Linked DNA regions of Homo sapiens: regions 1, 2, 3 and 5 are each reported to be linked to region 4. Evidence: microRNA targets listed by miRTarBase, many of them from high-throughput screens and not tested one by one. Region 4 holds a microRNA gene; each other region holds the end of a gene's coding sequence.
Evidence for each region. Region 4 holds the annotated microRNA hsa-miR-6737-5p (UUGGGGUGGUCGGCCCUGGAG, at 1,800-1,820, opposite strand). A microRNA usually pairs through its seed, bases 2 to 8, with sites in the 3' UTR of a target mRNA and lowers its output. Matches are read on the target gene's strand: a 7mer-m8 pairs with bases 2 to 8, a 7mer-A1 pairs with bases 2 to 7 and ends in A, and an 8mer does both.

Region 1 (4,312 bases), not on the chromosome of region 4:
AGAACATGATTCCCGGGGGTCTGTATACACGTTAAAGTTTTATTCTCCTTACAGAATTCCTGGTAATTCGGATGCACATTAAAATTAAAGTTTTATTTAGAGCATTGGTCCCCTAAGTTAGGTAGAAGTTTACTTTGAAGTTTGCAAGCCAGGGAAATGGTCAGAAAATTCTGCCCTGGAGAATACCAAAAGGCTGTAATTTATGTCAGCAGGGTGGAGGAAAGAGGAAAAGCAATTTACCCAAGCTGAGCAGACCTGCATCTTATCCCCCATTTCACCCTACCCGTTCCCTGCACAAAAATAAATAAATAAATAAATAAATAAATATAAAACAGAAGAGAAATGGCGCCAGGACATTCTTAACTTTTCTTGGATTATGAATCTATGCCACAATTACTATAGGCTTTAATTGCTCTTGACTGCAAGGCTATGTTCCTTTTGCCTTAGAACAGATAAGGAGGCTGTGGCACGTAAACATTCGGTGAATCTTAACATTAATATGCCAGTAGCATAGAAATATGCTATTTTTGAAAGCCCTTTGAATTGTGCACATGATTTTCCCTCTCCAGTAATAAATTGAGGGAAAAAATATGGATTGCTTAGGTAATGTAGTGATTATACAGCTTGTTATATAGATCAGGTTTACAGATCATCTCTCCATTCTTGACCTCTTAAGGTACAATTTAAAGCTGCGATTTAAGTAGAAATTATGAAAAGATGGAAGCACAGATAGATCTGTAAGCTGCCCACACTCTCTTTTCCTAATTTTTGAAGGCAAATAATGAACATGGTAACCCGGACGTGCCATACAGGTTAAAACCATGCCAGAGGGGCACATGCAGTCGAGACAAGCACAAAAACAGATGATCAGTTTAACCGATTTTGAAAGGCGGGCCCCTGAAAATTCAGAAATGACTATGTGTGGACTTTTTAAAGCCAACTCTGAAATGATTCCAAGGATCCTATAGAATAGTGAGTGCAATTAAAGACATTCAGTGTTATGTTCATTTTGACTCTTTATTCCTCGGAATGAAGACTGTGAGCTAAAATGTCTGTAACAATGTAGGATGTTTGTAAAAATATTGTTTCTCATGTGAGCTTCCAAGAGGGTCAGAGTGTCTGATTATAAAATCTCTGAAACTAAACTGAAAATGCCAGCATCTATACATATGTACTACATATTACATACATCTTTAGATGTATATTTATGTATTTTATGTTTTATATATTAAATACGCATATGCAAGATAACACATTTTAGTCGACACCATTGAAAACAGTTTTAACCAAGAATATTAGAACCAATGAAGCAGAGAAATCAAAAGGGTGGATGGAACTGCCAAAGGATGAAATTCTTGTGCTATACTCTCATGCTCTCATCTAGAGAATGTGAATATGAGAAAACATGGGTCATTCGTTTTAACATGTTAAGACCGTGCAGTCTGTCCTTCATGTCCATGGCAATAGAGGGTGAAGAACAGCTGGAGAACAAACAAGACCCCAATCCCCTCAGTTGGGTATGATCTAATGGTTCTCACCTAATCAAGAACAATAGAACTAGAGATAAAAAGGAGCTGCAAGATTTTAAAAGTTAACCAGCATTAGTAAAAGATAACTGTCATGCACATTTAAAGATAAGGTTTACATAACCTCATAACCTCCGAACTGTAACTAAGCTCATAGTCATCAAAAGTTAATTCCTAGGAAGAATTTGATTATAACAGTCTGTTCCATTATAAACACACTGTTTTTTAGCCAATTCCAAGGAGATTAGAGGTAGGTTTCACCAATCATGCATGGCAGGATCAGAGGGGATGCAAAGTCCTGGAAACTGACCTAAAATACTGCCAGTAAAATAGTGGGTAGTTGTGGGTGCCCTGCTCTTATGAACATCTGCTGAACCCTTCCTTGGTCTGATTCTAACCCAGGGTACAGAAGCCCTGACACTCTGGTAAGTGTTCAATCTGAGCAGCCTAATTTGACTTCATTCTGTTTGGGCGTCAGTCCAACTGGCAGATGTTCTTATAGAAGCTGATCTCCGACACTTTCCCTTTCTAATTTTCTGGCACCGTTGCCTCTGTTGCATGGGCTATTATCTCTGAAACTTTATCTCGGGTTATCCAGGTTTTGCTTGTTTTGTAGGCTTTAGTTTTCCCTTAAATCTTTCTGCCCCAAAGAAGTTCATTTGAAAAATACTAAATCACTGGTAACACCTTTAGTGCAAATATGACTTATCAAATAACTTGCCTGCAATTTTCCAGCCATTCATTACCTTTCCCCCACCCCCTCTAAAATATATAACTTCAGAAACAAAAATGCAAACACAAGGTCATCATTGTAAGCGCTATACAAATGCACCATTTTCTCTTACAGGTTGGACTTTATAGAATGAAATGCCAGAGATTTGATATTTATTATCTGAAATAGGTTTAACATTTGGAGAAATGTGTTCAAACACACAACCTTGGAAAGAAAAGCAAGCTGATAGGTCAGAGAACAGAGGGTGGGCAGAAAACACGATGTGCATAATTTTGCTGCGTGTTGGGCAAAAAGTTAGAAAACTGGGTTCTTTGGAGAATAAAGAGCTCTCAGATGAGGTAAAGGTAAAACACAAATAAATTTCCAACCCTTGATGAGGGCCACGAGATATCAATTTTAAATATATATGACCACAATATCAATAATGAAGAAATCTTACGTTTTATTGAATACTTTGGCCAGATCAGCCCCTTTGAAGGGATCACTAATTTAGGAAAGAAGAACAACAAACCATCATTCACTTTCCTGCAGGTTCATCGTTTTCCTAATTATTTCTATGGATCCTGCTTTATTCTTTCTGTAAATTAAGGGGCAGGAGGAGAGTTTCTATAATAGATCAGCAATGTCTGGTTCTTATCCAAATATTCCACCTAATAAGGATGTAAATTCTCATGGATTGGACAATCACTCTGCAACATTCCTGAGAATTGAATAATATAATAATCTTGAAAGTCAGCAGAGTGGATTATCCACTTTTTTTTTCTGGACTTGAACTTGTGAACTCAACAGTAGCACTGCAAAAAAGCAAACGTGCTAAGCACTTTGCCAGAGTAACCTTCCATGTAGACTTTTCATCTTAAATACACACAACTGAAAACAACTACAATTTTTGGAAAATTATGTACAAACCCGATACTTCTTTTGATTACATATAAATACAAATTAGCTATTTTTTTCCTAAAAAGTGGTTATAATAGTAAATAAATACAAAATAAATCTGACCATTATACTTCATGTGCTGGGGTTGAACCCATATAAAATGTACAACTAAATACATTTTAAATCTTTAAGGAATAATTCTCTGATTAAAATATTTGTTTTCCCAACTTCTTTTCGTAGATATAAATATATTTTCAAAATAGCTGTTTTTTTTTCCATTCCATTCCATAAATAAAGTCTTCATTGGGAAATATTAAAGTGTCAACTGGGGTGGGGTTTTTTTGTTTGTTTGTTTTTTTCTTTTTTCTAAAATATATATATATATATATATTTATGTATTTAATTTTGCTGTACTAGCGACACCCACAACCCTCCACAACCATGTCCTGATAGTTCTTTAATACAACCTTTTCATTCTCGTCAAGGTACAGCATCGAGATAGCACTGAGTTCTGTCGGGACACAGCATGCCTTAGGAATCTTAGAGTTAACAGAGTTGACCAACGTCTGAACAATGGCATGATTAGTGGAGTTCAGATGATCAGCCAGAGGAAAAGGGCATTCTCCGTGGCAGTAAAAGGCGTGATACCCCGGGGGAGCCACAATCCAGTCATTCCACCCCACGTCACTGAAGTCCACGTACAAAGGGTGTCTCTTACAGCTGGACTTAAGGCGTTTCCGCTGTTTGTGTTTGGCTTGACGTTTTTCTCTTTTGTGGAGAGGATGCCCTTTTCCATCATGGCCAAAAGTTACTAGCAATGGCCTTATCTGTGACCAGCTGTGTTCATCTTGGTGCAAAGACCTGCTTATCCTAACATGTCTCTTGGAGACACCTTGTTTCTCCTCCAAGTGGGCCACTTCCACCACGAATCCATGGTTGGCGTGTCCCTGTGCAGTCCACCGCATCACAGCGGGGGTGACATCAAAACTTTCCCACCTGCTTGCATTCTGATTCACCAACCTGGTGTCCAAAAGTCTGGTCACGGGGAATTTCGAGTTGGCTGTTGCAGGTTTTATGATTTCATAAATATTAATTCGGTGATGGAAACTGCTATTGTTTCCTAAAGCATCTTGCATCTGTTCTCGGAAAACCTGAAGCTCTGCTGAGGTGATAA
Region 2 (4,256 bases), not on the chromosome of region 4:
TTTTTTGAGACAGTTTCCCTCTTGTCATCCAGGCTGGAGTGCAGTGGCACAATCACTGTAACCTCCACCTCCCGGGTTCAAGCGATTCTCCTGCCTCAGCCTCCTGAGTAGCTGGGATTACAGGAGTGCACCACCATGCCCAGCTAATTTCTGTATTTTTAGTAGAGATGGGGTTTTGCCATGTTGGCCAGGCTGGTCTCGAACTCCTGACCTCAAGTGATCTGCCCACTCTGGCCTCCCAAAGTGCTGGGATTACAGGCGTGAGCCACCGCGCCTGGCCTTAGGGAGATGTTTTACCTACTGTTCCTGAACTTTGCAATCAGGAACGTGGGCAAATGCTCCCAAGAGGGTCAGCAGCAGCCCTGGAGGCAGAGTTCATGTTCCAAAGGCCGTCATAGTTGCCCAAGGCTGCCACCACAATGGTCATGCTGTGGCCAGCCCCTGCCCTGGCCCCTCCCCAATGGCATCCCACAGGCCCAACAAACTTTGTCCTCATTTCCTCTTAGGTATCTATGGCCGTTATCCTGAATGGCTGGGGCAGGGATGGGTGTGGGGAGGCAGGCTGGTTCAGAGTTTTGGGGATGGGGAGGTCACCCATAGGCTGGCGTCCCCCATCCCTGACAATTGGCCTGCCGAGAGATGGGGAGGCTAAGTTGTCCAGATGGCTGCCCTGGGTGAAAATGATGCCTCTGGAGGGCCTCATGTGAGATCTGTTTCTTTCTGTCTCTTCCTCCACAGATAACCGGGGGCTCCTCTCCCCAGACCAAAATGAATTGCAAGTTGCCACAACCTATGGTGGGGTCTCGAGGTCCTCACAGTTGCCAGCCCTGCAGCCCCCTTCCCCAGGAGCAAGGACCAGTTGGGGCGACTCCTTTGAAAGTCTGTCTGCACCTTGAAGCTGAGGGTGTGGCCTGGAGGCACCAGAGGGGCAAGAGAATGTTCCGGAACTCCAGTTCTGAGGGGTCTTGAAGGCCCTGAGCCACCCATTCTGAGCAGCCGTAAAGGACATGTAGACTTGGGGGAGGCCTGCCCCAGAGGGAGGGCAGGGGCATCGGAACTGGATGAGAGTGTGGGAGGTGGATGCGGGAGGGTGCACCTGTCCCGGGCGCCGTGGCCTCTCCCACCCCTCCCCTGATGGTCTTGTTCTCTTGTGCTCAGGCCAGAGACTTGCTCACTTCCTGCATTGTTGTGAAGGGAAGAGTTTGGGCTGCCTCCCCTCCTCCCGTCCACCCCAGAGGGGAAGTTCCTCAGCCAGACTCTTCAGCCAAATGCCCCAACTTTCAGTCTGTACCCCATCCCAAGCATAGCCAGCTCCCCCTCCTTCACCTAGTGGTCAAGGCCCGGAGCTGGAAAGCCGGGTTGGGGTGGGGTGGGGGTACTGACGCCCTTCCCAGCTCATCCAGGGGTGGAGCCTGGCCTGTCTTCCTCCAACCTCCCCCTTTTTCGTTGTGCAGCCTGGCCCCCCAGGGACCCCAGAGGGCCAGGGCGCTAGATGCAAGGTGCTAGACCAATGGGCTGCAGTATTATAGCCCCCAGGCCTGGCAGGCATGCGCTGGGCTAGAGAAAGGTGTCCGCCAACCTCCTCAGTCTCCCAGGCCTGGGACAGGCAGAACAGGGTGTGGCTGGGTGTCAGGCCTGGGGTGGGTAAGTCCTGCGATGTGGACACTGGAGAAAGTGGATCCTCTAAACTGCAGATTGTCCCCAGGTCACCAGGGCTGTGTGCGTGTGCATGTTTGTGTGCATGTATGCGTGTGTGCATGCATGTGTGTGTAAGTATGTGGTATGTGTGAGCACGGGTGTGTGCTTGGGTGTGTGTGTTCTTGCATACATGTGTGCGTGTGTGTGCACGTGAACGCGTGCGTGTTTGTGTGTGTGCATGCATGTGTGTGCATGTGTGTGTGTGCATGCATGTGTGTGTGTGTGCATGTGTGCGTGTGTGCACACTCACGTTGGGTGGTGTTTGGTAGGTTTCCCTCCAGGTCTGGTAGGGACTGGGCTGTTGCGTGATTCTGCGTGGATCGGGGGTAAGAGAGCTCACCTGTGTCCCAGCCCTCTGATGGTGGTGAGACCAGGGGAAAGGCCAGCTCAGAGGGTGGTCACAGCATGTGTCCTCTGACGTATGCCCCCAAAGCTCTCCAGCCAGACTGAGGTCACAGATGTGGGAGAGTCCCTGATGAGCCCGCTGACACGTGTGCGCCCCTTTGCACCCCATGCAGAGGTGCTCTCCTCCTTTCTCAGCCATGGCCCCCCATCCCTGACCTCAGCTTGGGAAGCAGCTCCTGCTGGGAGCATGGCCTCAGCCCCCAGCATCTCCTGGGGCCCCCATGGCTGGGGCAGGGGAAAGAGAGCCCTCAAAGGCCTCTTTCTGGTCTGTCTGGGGGTTCCCATTCCCACACATGTGCCCAGAGTAGGGGGCATGGAGGAGATGGTCCCTGTCCTACTGCAGGACACTGAGGGCTTGGCTGCCTGCCACCGCCATCTGGAGCCCACCACAGCTCTTCTCCCTGTTCTCTGGGCCTGAGCCTGGGGCCACCCCCAAGTGCCGACTTGTTTCTCCCAGAGCCCCAGGTGCTGCCCCTTCTCTCCTGTTCCTCGTCCGTTTACTGCCGCAGCCCCTCCTGGTTCTTCTGGTGCTGGGGTGGAGCAGGCTCTGTGCTCCCACCACTGTACCCCGAATCCCTCCTGCAGGCTCATTGCCACTTTTGTAGAGAATGTTCTCTATCAGTATCGTACCTGTCTTGTCCTTTAATGCTTTGGGGATAGAGTGAAGAGTGGAAGGGTGGGGGTGGGGGCGGGAGGGGGTCTGCTCTGCGCTTGTGAGGACTGGGTCCTATTCTCTGGAGTGTCTTCGAGACCCCATGCTGTGCATCTTTGCAGGGATCCCTAGGCCTTTACCTGCTCTCCTAGCTCAGCCCAGAATTAGGAGCTGGTGGAGAGGCAGGGCTGAGAACTAGGGCAGGAGAGTCCCCCTGAGCAAGGAGGATGGCTGAGCCTCCAGGCTTGTTGCCAGGGCCTGCAGCTACGGAGGGCAGGAGGATGCATGTTCTCTCTTCCCACCAGTGCCTACCTGGGTTTTTCCAGAGATGGGCAGAAACATACTCCAGGAGGCTGCTGCCTGTCACCTGGGCTCTGGGCCTCTGGAGGGGTCTCCATGAGGGCCCTCCAGAGGCCCAGAGGGGTCTCCATGTCCCTCATCACCGCAGGCAGCTCGTGGGCAGCCTGATTTGAAGCCCTGCTTTCTCCCAGGGGTGAGTCTCCTCCATAAGCTGGTGCCTAGTGGGCTCTGTTTTCTCAGTCAGGTCTGAGGAAGGGCCCTGGAGTCATCTTGCTCCATTGCCTAAGCTGCTGGGCCAGTTTCTTCTGCCAAAGGGAGTTCAAGACAGTTCCCTTCCCTCAGCATCAATCAGAAAGGTCCCCAGGATGTTGGTGCAGGAAGGTTGCCTAGCAACCATCCAGGGGTTCCAAGCCACCTCCCTCCACTTTACAGATGGAAAAACTGAGGCCCACAGAGGGGAAGAGTCAGACCCAGAACGCGGGTCTCTGGCTGCTGCCATGCTCTCCTCACACTCAGGCTGCCAAGGGCGCTAACACAACAGGATTCCACCAGCCATGCCCTGGGGGCGCACCTCCCTGCGGCTTCTTTGGCCATCCTGGTCACTGCACCCACCTCAGGAAAGACTCACTGGTCCTTGCCGCGATGGTCCAGAAGAGGACACGGGTGAGGAATGACAAGACAGAGAGCCGAGGGGCACTTTGGCATCCCAGCAGAGATGAACCAGAGGCAGCAGGATGAGGGGCTCCATGGGTCAGTGTGGCTCCAGGGCAGAAGCCTGGGGTGCCAGGAGCAGGAGCTGCTCCAGGGAGCCTGTGGGGATGTTCAACACAAGCAAAGAGGAGAAAATATTACATGGTAGGGGCTCAACTTTCATGACTCATTTCCCTAAAGATTTAGATCAAGAATAGGGACATTTACGAGGTCAGGAGATCGAAACCATCCTGGCTAACATGGTGAAACTCTGTCTCTACTAAAAATACAAAAAATTAGCCTGACGTGGTGGTGGGCGCCTGTAGTCCCAGCTACTTGGGAGGCTGAGGCAGGAGAATGGTGTGAACCCGGGAGGCAGAGCTTGCAGTGAGCCGAGATTGCGCCACTGCACTCCAGCCTGGGCGACAGAGCGAGACTCCGTCTCAAAAAAAAAAAAAAAAAAAAAAAGGGACGTTTTAGCACTTTGGGAGGTAGAGGTGAGTGGATTGTT
Region 3 (4,300 bases), not on the chromosome of region 4:
TGATGAAAGGTACTTTGCACATGGTAGGTGGTCATTGGGTTTATTTTTCTTTTTGAATACAGAGTTGTTTTGCTCTTATTGCCCTGGCTGGAGTGCAATGGTGCAATCTCGGCTCACTGTAACTTCTGCCTCCCAGGTTCAAGTGATTCTTCTGCCTCAGCCTCCCAAGTAGCTGGGGTTACAGGTGTGTGCCACCACACCTGGCTAATTTTCCTATTTTTAGTAGAGACGGGAATTCACCATGTTGGCCAGGCTGGTCTCAAACTCCTGACCTCAGGTGATCCACCGGCCTCAGCCTCCCAAAGTGCTGAGATTACAGATGTGAGTCACCACGCCCAGCTACTCAGTTTTGTTGTTGTTGTTGTGTTTTTTTTGTTTGTTTGTTTTTTGTTTTTTGTTTTTACAGCTGAGGGAGCAGAGGTTCAGAGAGAAGAAGTTACTTTCCCAAGCTCACGCAGGTAGTAAATGGCTCACCAAGAGTGGACCTGGGCAGCCTATGGGTCTGGGTGCTCTGTCCTGCCTCTCCGTTTCACAGATAGGATGAGAGAGTGGGAAGGTGCTGAGATTTCAGTTCCAGATGGGATGTGGGGTCTGTAGCCCTGTTAAGTCCCCGCTCCCATGGCCACAGATGCCTATGGGAGGCAGGAGGCAGGTCTGAAAGTGAAGATGTATGAATTCAGCTCAGTTTTGGGAACTGAGGATTGTTCATTACTGGGTATGTACTCCAAGGAAAAATAAACTATTCTACCCCCAACACACCTGCACCTGTACGTTTATTGCAGCACTATTCACAGTAACAAAGACATGGAATCAACCTAGGTGCCCATCAATGGTGGATTGGGTAAAGAAAATGTGGTACATGTACACCATGGAATACTATGCAGCCATAAATAAAACAATGAAATCGTCCTTTGCAGCAACGTGGATGCAACTAGAGGCCATTATCCTAAATGAATTAACACAAAGACAGAGAACCAAATACCGCATGTTCTTGCTTATAAGTGAGTGCTAAACATTGAGTGTACATGGACGCAAATATGGGAACAGCTGACACTGGGGACCCCAAAATCAGAGAAGGAGGGAGGGGGTCAAGGGTCGGAAAAATACCTATTGGGGCCGGGTGTGGTGGCTCATGCCTGTAATCTCAGCATTTTGGGACGCCAAGGCAGGCAGATCACTTGAGGTCAGGCATTCCAGACCAGCCTGGCTAACATGGCAAAACTCCGTCTCTACTAAAAATATAAAAATTAACCAGGCAAGGTGGTGCACGCCTGTAATCCCAGCTACTCGGGAGGCTGAGGCAGGAGAACCACTTGAACCCGGGAGGCAGAGGTTGCAGTGAGCTGAGATTGTGCCACTGCGCTCCAGCCTGGGTGACCGCGAGTCTCGGTCTCAAAAAAAAAAAAAAAAAAAGAAGAAAAGAAAAAAAGAGAAAAACTACCTATTGGGTACTATGCTCACTACCTGTGTGACAGATTTATTCATACTCTAAGCCTCAGCACCACACAATATACCTTTGAAACAAACCTGCACATGTACCCCTTGAGTCTAAAATTAAAAAAAAAAAGGTCAGGTTCGTGGTAATTTTTTATTTGTAACTTTTCTAATTTTTAATTTCCAATTTTGCTTAATTCGAAAAAATACATACCACTTTAGAGCAAATAGGACACAACGTTAACAACTGATAACTCCAGGTGAAGGTTATATGGGGTTCACTGTTATATATACATATATATGTGTAATTTTTTTTTTTTTTTAAGACAGACTCTCTCTGTCACCCAGGCTGGAATGCAGTGGTACGATCTCCGCTCACTGCAACCTCCGCCTCCCAGGTTCAAGCCATTCTCCTGCCTCAGCCTCCTAAGTAAGTGGGATTACAGGCATGCGCCACCATTCCCGGCTAGTTTTTGTATTTTTAATAGAGTCAGGGTTTTACCATGTTGGCCAGGCTGGTCTTGAACTCCTGACCTCAGGTGATCCGCCTGCCTCGGCCTCCCAAAGTGCTGGGATTACAGGCGTGAGCCACCACGCCCAGGTAGGGTTCACTTTTTTAACTTTATTGTTTTAACTTCCCTGTAGATTTGCAAATTTTCAAAATTAAAAAAAAAAAAAAAGGCCGGGCATAGTGGCTCATGCCTGGAATCCCAGCATTTTGGGAGACAGAAGTGGTTGGATCGTTTGAGCCTAGGAATTCAAGACCAGCCTGGACAATACAGCGAAACCCCGTCTCTACGAAAAAATTAAAAATTAGCCGGGCGTGGTGGCCGGCATCTGTGGTCTCAGTTACTTGGGAGGCTGAGGCTGGAGGAATTCTTGAGCCCAGGAGCTCAAGGTTGCAGTGAGCAGTGATCACACCACTGTGCTTTGGCCTTTGCGAAAGAGTGAGACTTTGTTTCAAAAAAAGGAAAAGAAAAGAAACAGAATTTTGATGGCAAATATGGAAATGATCAAGTGTAACGGAATATTTTTGTCACAGGAGAGGCCAGAAGGGGACCGCTGAGAAACGGCATGGTGCCTGCAGGTGCTCAGAGTGTCCAGTAGGGGGAAGCAGAGTCCAGGTTCTGTCTCAGGTTAGGCTTTGAAGCGGGTGGCGGGTGGGACAGACTTTCAAGAATACAATGAATCCTGAGCGGCATGGCTGGAATAACAATAATTATTAAAAAGCGTCCTAGGAATATTAAGAAGGACAGCGATGAAAGAGGCTTTAGAAATAACCTAGTCCTTATTCGGCAGAAGGCAAGACTGAGTCCAAATAGATTTTTCCCAGATTTAACCCAAGGAATTCACGAGAAAGCTTGAAATAGAACCCAGGTCTCTATCTCTTTAGATGTATGGAAAGAAATAAAAGCCCGTTTTCAGAAGGAGAGCTTGCAAAATTTGGTTTTCTTTGGTAGGAAGTGAGTCTCTCTCTCTCTCTCTCTCTCTCTCTCTCTCTCTCTCTCTCTCCCCCCCCCCCCTCTGTGTGTATGTGTATATGTGTGTGTGTGTCTGTCTGTCTGTCTGCCTTGCCTCTTGGACACCAGCAAATGGTGTCAGTGGAGTTCAAGGAATGGTCCTCTTTCCACTGCAAATCTCTCTCTTGTTGTCTTGAACCCCAAAAGCATCCGATTTTATGTTCTGGAGGAGAGAGAGAGAGTCTGGGAGGTTAGAAACAGGAGCTATGGGAAACAGGAGGAAAGATCTGGGAACCATGAAAATTGTAATAAAATTGCTTTATTATTTTTAGTTACTACAAATATATATTATAATATTTACTAAGGAAAAAATCAGAACTCATAACAATAAGAACTTAAAAAATACCCACAATCTTATATACCAAAAGGTAAATGCTCTATATTTAAATACAGGTGTTTTTCATGAAGATGGTATGCAATAATTCTTATGAGAGCATTTTGTGATATGTAAAGTGCATGCAGTCCAGTGTCCAAGGGGTCATGGTTGTAAACAGCGGGTCGAGGGCGCTGTCCATGGTACTGAACCCGGGCAGATGAGGGGAGGAACATCTCTGAGCTTGTTTGGAAGTGCTAGCAGGGAAGTCCAGATAGATACTTGTATGCCTTTGACTGAAGCGTGGTCCTCCTCTATCAGAGAAGGTCGTCCTCTCGTCCTCTTCAACTGAGCATGCAGCTTTAGGAGGGACACATATGGGGCAGTGAGGGAGGACGGGGACACCCGCCTGCTCAGCCAGATCAACCAAATCAATCCTGGCGATCAATGGGGTGAAAGATGTTGCAGTCAGAGTACCCTCAAATCTGGAGCGTCTTTGAAAAATGAGCAGGAAAGCCTAGCCTGATATCATGACAAGCCCATTGGAGCGTCCACGGGTTTCTATTTGAGAATCTCCCAGCACTGCTGTCTCTCCTCTTTCTCCTTGGTAAGTACAGGGCTTGTTTCCTGTACTTACAATGGGAACATTGAGTTCCCATGGAAGGCTCTCAATGGGAAAATGCTCCACCAAGCTTAGCCGGACTGGGATCTCCTCACTCCCAGACTTCTCAGCTCCATGCCTTAAAATGATGTCGTCATTACCTGAGGCCTCTGAATTCGGATCTGAAAAGAGAGATAAAACCAAGTGAGGGCTCAGCCCATGAGGAATTTGGGATTCTGGAAGCATAAGGAGGATTGGGATAGGAAGTGTTCTGTTTAATTATTTTTATTTTTTATTATTTTTTTGAGACAGGGTCTTACTCTGCCATCCAGGCTGGAGTGCAGTGGCACAATCACGGCTCACCATGGCCTGTAACTTCTGGCCTCAAGCAATCCTCCCACCTCAGCCTCCCAAGTAGCTAGGACTACATGT
Region 4 (4,312 bases):
CCAATGCTGCGGCCCACCATTCACTGTTCCCAGCAGAGCCCTTGTTTCCTCCAGAGGTGACGGCCCTGACTGCTCCTTGTAAGCCAGTGTGATCTGCTCCATCACCAGGACCAGGAAGAAGCCCATGGCCAGGATGAACTCTTGCAGTGGGAACTGGAGCTGTGGGCAGAAGCAGCAGCAAAATGTTCAGGGAAGGAAGAGTGAGATGCAAAATCTGGTGAAAGCCCAGTTACACAGACCTAGGGTCTGACACAGACACAGGGCTACTCTCAGTCACACAAAGATAGAGTGAATTGGTAACACTGACACAGAATGATACGTACACACAGATTATGGTGTCACTCACAGTGTTACGTGTAGACCAAAGTTTCTCAGCTTTGGAACTATTAACATTTTGGGGCCAGGGGCAGTGGCTCATGCCTATAATCCCAGCACTTTGGAAGACCAAAGTGGGAAGATCACTTGAGGTCAGGAGTTTGAGACCAGCCTGGCCAACATGGTGAAACCCTGTCTCTACTAAAAATACAAAAATTGGCAGGGTGTGGTGGTGGATGCCTGTAATCCCAGCTACTCAGGAGTCTGAGCCAGGAGAATCACTTGAACCCAGGAGCCAGAGATTGCAGTGAGTCGAGATTGTGCCACTGCACTCCAGCCTGGGCAACAGAGCAAGACTCTTTCTCAAAAACAAAACAAAACAAAAACAAACAAACAAAAACATTTTGGGCCAGATAATTCTTTGTCATGGGAGCTGTCTTGTGCACTGTAGATTGTTTAACAGCATTTCTGATCTCTACTTACCAGATGCCAATAGCAGGCACAATGTTCCCTCCATCCCCCTCCCCATTGTGACAACTAAAAATATCCCCAGACATTACCAAATGTTTCCTGAGGGGCAAAGCCACACTCCTAGTTGAGAGTCACTGATGTAGACATACATGAAAAGGTCACACATTGCCCATCTCCCCAAATACTCATACATAGAGCCACATATCACAGGACATTCAGGCTTATACGCAGTCACACGGAAACACAGGTCACTCAGTCACAGACACACAAAGGGATACATCCAGTGTTACTTCCTCAGTTTTAGAGGAAAAAAGGAAAGAGCCCAGGATGACTTTCCTGCCCCACTATCCAACGGCCTCAGTTTTTCCTATAATAAACCAAGTCCTATGCCGTGGACTTGATCATTCCTCACAGCCCACTTCCTTGGGCCAAAGCCTAAAAAGGTTAGCAACACCAAGACCCAGGGAATCGCTTCCTATCCTTCTCAGGCCTACAGAGACCTCTATCTCCAGCCCTTTAGGAAAGTGGTGAGAGAGTGAAGATGATTCTTGGAGCACTTGCTGGTAGCTAGAACTGAGAACCCATAGAGCAAGTCACACACCTGAGAAAAAGTGTCTTACTGTCTCAACGGGAATGTAGGGGTCACACAGGGAATGGGGAAGGGGGAGGGAACACATAGAAAGAATTATGCCCCATAACCAAAAATCACAATTCATACCACATGCCAAAAGTCTTCCACACAGTCATGGAGTGGCACATGAATCAATCTCCACAAACCAACACTCCCAGAGGTGTGTGATTCCCCTCCCGCAAGTCACATGCCCAGGCCAGTGCTCACCGTCACGTGCAAGGCTGCCAGGGCCTCATCTATGGCAGCCAGGTAGTCAGGCAGCAGGTCCAGGAGACAAGTGGCCAAAAAGACGCCCCCCGCGAAACAGCTTACTAGGCTCAGGGCTTTCTGGCGGGAAGCTGGGTAGGGGTGAAGCACAGAGGGGAATAAGCAAACAAACCCCCTCCAGGGCCGACCACCCCAACCCAAACAATGGCTACCCTTGCCTTTCCCTCCTCCTTTGGTCACTCCCCGCCAGCCCCAGAGCCCTCCCTAAGCCAAGCATTCATAGCAGTGTGGGGAAAAGGAGAGGCTTACCTGAGCCTTCATGGTTAGCTCCTGGCCGGCGCAGCACACAGATGGGCACCAGGCTGCAGAGGAGGGTGAGCACCAGCAGCAGCACCAGGGCCCCCAACTTCACCTCCAGCCCCACAGGCACTGGAGGCTCTGAAGCTACCGCCTCGGGGCGCCACACCAGGAGCTCTGGCTCTCCCCAGGGCCCCATGATGCTTCTGGTAGCTCCAGTGACTCTCAGACCTAGGAAGACAGACCAGAGTGGTTGGGAAAAATCATGCAAAGGAAGATGGGGCAAGGAATGGGGAAGCTTGGTCAGCAGAGTGCAGCTCCCTGGCCCCAGCCACTTTGTGACCTTCCCCTACCCAGGGTGACTCATCTACTCCTGTACCAGGAACATTCCTCTCTTCTCACACTTTCTTTCCCAAGTGACTTATTCAGGGAGACTGCACGGGGGAAACCGAGGCATGAGAAAGGCTGTATGGATATCTCATCACCCTTTCACCTGGTGCCCCCAGAAAACTAGGAAACTAGGAGCCGCCTCCAAATAGGACCTGGAGCTGGAGTTCCCCTAAGGAATGTAGAGGCCGGGTCCCCAACTCCCGAACGGAGTGGGTGAAGCCAAAAAGGCTAGGGCTGTGCAGAGATGTCTTGGGTAGCTTCGTGGGCCACCTGGACAGGGTAAGTTTGGGTGCTGGATCGCTCCATCGTTCCCCTTTTCCCAGCGCAGAGAACAAGCGCTTCAGGCCCCAGGATGGGACCTAGAGGCAGATGGCCAAAGAGAGGGGCCCTAAGAGTCTGCGGTCCCGGGACGGACTGAGGCGACACTGAGGGCGGTGCCTGAAAGTCCGGGCTCCAGGAGGCGGGGTGCGAGGCCGCCAAGCGTCGCGGGAAGCAGATGAAGAATGCGTGAGCTGGGACTCCTGTTCCCGGGCCCGGGGAGGCCTGGGCAGCCGACATGGACCCCGCTGCCAGACAGCCCGCACTCACCTCGCGAGGGTCTCACTACATGGTCTCCGCGCGCTTCCGGCCTAGAGTCGGGAATTCCCGCCCCCTCCCATAGCTCCCCCCTCCCCCACAGGAGCCGCGTACCCACGACCGACTGCCAATGGCAGCACCGAGTGGGCGGGGACAGACCGGGAGTGACGTCAGTTAGGAGCAATCAGAGATCGGGAGCGGGAGCGGGCGGAGCAGGCGACCTGAGGAGAGTGAGCGAGAGCAAGAGCGGATATTAGGAAAAGGACCTCGGGGCTGGGGCCCTGGGGCGCATCTGTGGAGGACTGAGGGGCCGGAGCGGGCCAGTCAACAAAGGCTTTGATTATATGGATATTTTTAAAAGAGGGAGACCCCGCATTGTCAAGTCTTCCGGCCCACATCTGAAAACATCTTCCTGGCCTTGGGCCAAAGTCTCATCTGTCCCTCAGAAGGCTCTGACACCTCGTCAGTGCCTCTTGGCGCCCAAGGGAAAGCATTCCCCTCTTGGGACCAACTTCCTTGACTGCTTTCCCTCACCAGCACCCACAACAAGGAAAAAGACAAGGCAGAATTGGAAAGGGGGGAAAGCAAAGAGAGGGTATGTCTTGAAAATCATCCCTTCTCGACTACTTATGGCACTCAGTGCAGCCTCCGCCTTCTCCAGGTGGGTGGGGACGTGGTGGGACCGGAATGCGGGGTGCTGAAGCCGCGCCCAGGGAAGAGCCCCCAGCGCATTCCAGGATATCTGCGTACCGCGCCTGCGGGCGTCTGGCCGGTTCTCCCACCTGATTTCCAGCCCAGCTCCCGCCACCCTCGCCGGTCGGTTTGCTGTTTGCTGTTCCTTGAATGCCCCAAGGTAGTTGTTTCAGCTCAGGACTTTCACCGTTTCCTCAACCTGGATTCTTGTGGCCCACAACTCTGTGCCTTGAGAATCCTCTTCTAGCCTCAAGGGACGGTAAGACAAAAGAAAATTTAAAAAGGGGGCTCAGCTGTTCTTTTATGCAAAGGTGAAAAAAGCTTCATTGCCTAAAGAAGGGACAGATGGGATCTTGCTTCCTACAGGAAAATTAATTTTAAAAAAGAAAAAAAAAAGGGGGGACAGTGTAATGCTTCTCACAAGGCTCCAGAAACGAAGCCCAGTAATTCCTTAAGTAAAAGAGGAATGTGAAGACTTCTTAAGGGGCCGGGCGCGGTGGTTCACGCCTGTAATCCAAGCACTTTGGAAGGCCGAGGATGAATCACCTGAGGACAGAAGTTCAAGACCAGCCTGGTCAACATGGTGAAACCCCGTCTCTACTAAATATACAAAAATTAGCCGGGCGTGGTGGCGGGGGCCTGTAATCCCAGCTACTCGGGAGGCCGAGGCAGGAGAATCGCTTGAACCCGGGAGCCGGAAATTGCAGTGAGCCGAGATCGCGCCATTGCGCT
Region 5 (4,267 bases), not on the chromosome of region 4:
TCCTGGCTGTGGCGACAGCTGTCTCTGGGAGCTTGGTCGGGGGTCTGAGTGTGGGGAGGGCTCTGGGTGACCCCTCATCCTCTGCTCAGCGGGATATCTCCCACTGGGACAAGGTCAAGGTCCTGCTCAACCGGATCTGCCGGAGAAGCCACCACCACCCTGAGCCCCCTGCCCCTCCTGATGGCTCTGACCCCAGGTGAGCCCCGTGCCCAGCCCAGGTTAGGGCACGGAGAGGAGACTGATAAGCCAGGATGCTGAGATTGTCATGCCAGTTGTCATTATTGTCCCCGCAAAACTTGAGAGGCAGTCTGGGAGGGGCTGCTAGAAGAAACAGTAGTTAAAACACCCCATTTACAGATAAGGAGGCAGGGTTCTGGGTGGGGTTGGGGGTAGTTGCTTTTCCAAAGCCGCACGGTGAGTCAGTGACAGCTAGGACCAGAATGTGGGAAATCTGCCTACCCTAGCTCAGCAACCCCTCACCCTCAATGCTGACATTTAGGCCACCTTCCAGGTTCGTGGGGAGAGCAAGGTGGAGCACAAAGGATTTCACAGTGGGTGAAGGCCATCATGCTTCGGGGCTTGTATTGAATCGTTCTCCAGGAGGAAGAAATACCAAGTCATTTAACAGCCCCGGGCTGCGCCCACACCCAGCTACCCACCAGCAGATAAACCACGTTCTCTCAACTCTAGGGCCATTGTTAGTTTTATTTCCCCCTTCTAGCCTAATGTCTTCTTTTCATTCCACAGGATCGAGTCCAGGGACCTCCCTGAAAGGCCTCAGTGCCGCCCCCACCGGAAGACCTTTATGCCATCATTAGTGGTTAAGAAGCAACGAGCAAAAAACCTTTCTGTAGGCTGAGACCTCTCGGTGCACCTGGTGACCCTGGGTGGAGGGGACTTGCTGTGAAGTCTTCCTCGCCCTCTGCCCTCTTGCTGCTTCTCCACATTGCCAGGAAAAGCTGCTGACGCCTGCCCTCCTCTCTTGAGTCGAGGGCTGAATCTTTCTCCTCTAAGCAGTCTGGTCAGGAACCTTGGTTTCTTGAGAGGCCCCCAAGATGCCGCAGCTCCAGGGCTCTTCCTCCTCACCAGAAATCCCTGGGCTTCCACAATGTGAACTCACTCATTGTCAGGTGTCCGTGGAGTGTTTTTGGCATGGTGACCTGTCTGGGCCCAGCATGTTGCAGATGTGTATTTATGCGCAATGGTATGCATATCTCTGTGTGACTGTCAGTGTTGCAAGCTGGCTGGATCCAACCATCTCTTCTGAAATAATGCATCCAAAGGGTTGATATTCTGGGGGAGGTCACTGCAGAAGGATGGAACTGACCTTTATTCCCCAGTGGGCAGTTACTGAGCTTTCCTCCTCAGAGCCATGCTGGCAGCCCTGGGACAGAGAACGGTGTGGCTTTGGCTGCCTCTGCATGGAATCTTGCCCCGGACTCCTGAAGACTGCACAAGGAATGAGGAAGATCAGGGACAACCTGGGAACTGAATAACTTTCAAAGCCAGTGCTCAGCTTCTCTGCTCCGTACTAGCGTTTACAGGTCTTAATTCAAACCAGATGCCTGTACTAGTTTTTAGACCCCAAGTCAACCTTTCTGAGCCACAGCTTCCCGCTGGGAATAATGATGCCTGCCCTATCTACCTCACAGACTTGTTATGAGGATAAAGTGAGATTAAACTGCCTCAAAGTGCTTTGTAAACCTCAGGTGAATAGGAAAGGGGAAAGTAAGGCTGGAGTGATGATGGGGAGGTCGGAGGATAAGGGGGGGCTGGGATTGCTAATGGGGACTAAAATGGCCAGTCTCCTGGCAAGATTTTGAGCAGGTCATTTCATTGAGGCCTCTTAGATTTCATATTTGAGAATTAGGGCACTGATTCCTGACTGGCTAGGCATGGTGGTCACTGGCTTGAGTCAGACCAGGAATGTCTCTTAGAAATGGTCACTGATAGGCATCCTTCTCCTCCAGTCAGGAGGGGCTGGTTTCCTTATCTGTTGCAGTCTCGACTGCCAGAGGGAGGCGAGCGTGGTAGGCAGTCGGGGGTCCCTTGTGTTTGGGGGGCCCAGCTCCCGCTTCCTTTGAGCCCGGAACCAATGATCCGAAGCCTTCTTTCCTGATGGGATTCTTTAGCGAGGACACTACCGAGGCGCGACTTCCTGACGCGCATCCGATCCGGGAAGGCGCACTTCCGCTCCCCAGTTGCCGCGGGATGGCAAGCCGGCGTGGGGGAAGGGAGAGGTCGGCGGAGACGAGGGAGGGACCATATCCGGGAGAGCGGCAGCTTCCGACCAGTGGTCGCGCTTCCGGAGAGGCGCTTCCGGTGGCGGCGGCAGCAGCGGCTGTGGTGGTTCCGGGTGTCTTTGTCCCCCCGGTGTCGCTGCCCTGGCCCGCAGGTGGGTTGGGGGGCCCCCTGCCGCCCCTCTGCCCCTTCGCCCCTCCGCCCCTCCGCTGGCCGAGGGGCTGCGAGGGCCGGGCGGCGAAGATGCGTGGGGCGCGGAAGGGGCCGAGCCCCTCTTTGGACTGCAAGTCCCGTCTCCCTGGCAACGGCCTCGGCCTTGGGGGCGGGCGGGAGGAGGAGAAACCGCGCGCCTCAGTCCTCCCTTGGTGGCCTCGCCGCGGCTCTGCTGGGAGACCCGGCGCTGGCGGCTGCTGAGGCCGGAGCGGAGGGCCCGGGAGCGTGGGAGCAGGAGGGTGGCGCGCAGCCGGTTTCGCGTTTGGTCGGCCAGGGAGCTGCCTTCCCACCAGCCGGTCGAGGAAACAACGGGTCGGGCTTCCGGGGAGAGGGCCCACACAGTCTCCTCGCCGGCACCGGCCTCCTCCATTTTTCCGGGCCTTGCGTGGAGGGTTTTGGCGGATGTTTTTGAACGAAGGAATGTCATCGGGGCTCTCTCGAGCCCCTCACCCCGCCAGCTACTCTGGGGGTGGCGTGGCATAGTGAGAGGAGCGCTAAGTTGTTGGGAGGCCTGGGTGTGAGTAGCAGTTTTGTCACTACCTGGTTATGTGGCCCCGGGCAAGTCTCTTGATCTCTCTGAGCATCAGTTTCCTTGTCTGTAAAACAGCATGACAGTATCATGCACCACTAGGTTATTGTCAGGGCAAACTGGAACAATGTAATTTCTTGTTTCATTTCTTTCTTCTCTATATTCTCTCCATCCATTGCTTTCATTCATTCTTATTACCCACCTCCCTGTTTTCCGAAATATCCTTACTTAAGATTCTCCACTTTTCCGGGTATAGATGGAAATTTCCCTTATAAGCTGTTAATTTCTTTCTTTTTGGATTGAAGCCTTTTCCCCACGACTCTGAAAGAGGACAGCGTTCCCAATGTCCCAGTTTAAGCGCCAGCGGATCAACCCGCTTCCAGGGGGACGCAACTTCTCAGGTGATCACTGTTCTCCCTACCTGGCCTCATCCTGGGAAGTATGTGCTCTGGAGTTAGTTTGGGGTTTCCCTGGTGGAGAGCAATTTGCTGCTGATGTTCCTCTGGAAAGCAGGAGATGCCCACAGTGATTGCCAGTGAAGCTCTGTGGAGGAGCTGGCTGGAGCTGTAGCCTTTGGATTTACCACATCCTTTGGTTGACTCGTGCTTAAGGTGGTAGGGGCGGTTCCTGGAGATTGCTTCTCTTTCCCCATAGGCACAGCTTCAACATCTCTTCTGGGCCCTCCTCCTGGTTTGCTCACTCCTCCTGTGGCCACAGAACTGTCCCAGAATGCCAGGCACCTTCAGGTAGGTTCGGCATCCCTTGTAGTAAGTTTCAGCCCTTGGGACTGAATGCATGGAGGCCTGGTGCTCTTTTTCTCTTACATAATAGTGTTTATCATTCCTGATCCCTCTCCTGGTAGTGGGCTAGTATGGGGTTGCCCAGATAGCCTTCAGACTGGGGCATCTTCATTTCTCGCTCCAGGGAAATCTTTAGCTTACGTCTTGGAATTAATGAACTGGAAATCCCAGAAGAAGCTTGTGGGTCAAGAACCAGCTCAAACATGCCCCAACCCCTAATGATGGAGTATGCCCACCACACCTGTACTTCACTCTGTGCGAACTCTTGATGCAGTACGCTGAGCTGGGGCGTGGGTTGAGATGAGACCTTCATGGCAGAGTGTGATTTTGTCCAGTTTCCTCCCTTTTACTTTTCAGCTGTCTCCTTCTCTTACAGGGTGGGGAGAAACAGCGGGTCTTCACTGGTATTGTTACCAGCTTGCATGACTACTTTGGGGTTGTGGATGAAGAGGTCTTTTTTCAGCTAAGGTAGGCTTGAGGTTGG

Region 1: the mRNA of BMP2 is a reported target of hsa-miR-6737-5p. Seed matches in the 3' UTR shown: 7mer-m8 at 3,465-3,471.
Region 2: the mRNA of USH1G is a reported target of hsa-miR-6737-5p. Seed matches in the 3' UTR shown: 7mer-m8 at 1,228-1,234 and 7mer-m8 at 2,205-2,211.
Region 3: miRTarBase lists MUC17 as a target of hsa-miR-6737-5p. Seed matches in the 3' UTR shown: 7mer-m8 at 3,716-3,722.
Region 5: miRTarBase lists C8orf58 as a target of hsa-miR-6737-5p. Seed matches in the 3' UTR shown: 7mer-A1 at 1,582-1,588.

Annotation. Positions count from the first base shown.
Region 1 is chr20:6,778,329-6,782,640 of GRCh38, reverse strand. BMP2 (bone morphogenetic protein 2) reads right to left here. Exons shown (of 3, transcript NM_001200.4): 3 at 2,395-4,312. The coding sequence ends at 3,552. Among named protein-coding and RNA genes, the nearest start is that of BMP2, 13 kb to the right of the region's middle.
Region 2 is chr17:74,914,559-74,918,814 of GRCh38, reverse strand. USH1G (USH1 protein network component sans) reads left to right here. Exons shown (of 3, transcript NM_173477.5): 3 at 739-2,732. The coding sequence ends at 742. Among named protein-coding and RNA genes, the nearest start is that of USH1G, 6.6 kb to the left of the region's middle.
Region 3 is chr7:101,057,753-101,062,052 of GRCh38, reverse strand. MUC17 (mucin 17, cell surface associated) reads right to left here. Exons shown (of 13, transcript NM_001040105.2): 13 at 3,194-4,050. The coding sequence ends at 4,009. It also overlaps the pseudogene RN7SKP54. Among named protein-coding and RNA genes, the nearest start is that of TRIM56, 26 kb to the left of the region's middle.
Region 4 is chr1:153,960,596-153,964,907 of GRCh38, forward strand. It overlaps MIR6737 (microRNA 6737), which reads right to left and starts at 1,825; the gene lies at 1,756-1,825. It overlaps SLC39A1 (solute carrier family 39 member 1), which reads right to left and starts at 2,942. Exons shown (of 4, transcript NM_001271958.2): 1 at 2,900-2,942; 2 at 1,934-2,152; 3 at 1,625-1,755; 4 at 1-159. The coding sequence starts at 2,120. RefSeq lists enhancers at 2,226-3,180, 2,509-2,578, 2,530-3,729, 2,619-2,678, 2,829-2,998 and 1 more.
Region 5 is chr8:22,602,448-22,606,714 of GRCh38, forward strand. C8orf58 (chromosome 8 open reading frame 58) reads left to right here. Exons shown (of 7, transcript NM_001013842.3): 6 at 90-196; 7 at 748-1,695. The coding sequence ends at 859. It overlaps CCAR2 (cell cycle and apoptosis regulator 2), which reads left to right and starts at 2,310. Exons shown (of 21, transcript NM_001393997.1): 1 at 2,310-2,395; 2 at 3,289-3,384; 3 at 3,638-3,729; 4 at 4,160-4,251. The coding sequence starts at 3,327. LOC107986876 (a long non-coding RNA gene) reads right to left here and starts at 2,553. Exons shown (of 1, transcript NR_160769.1): 1 at 686-2,553. RefSeq lists enhancers at 2,028-2,137, 2,144-2,644 and silencers at 2,308-2,607, 2,668-2,727.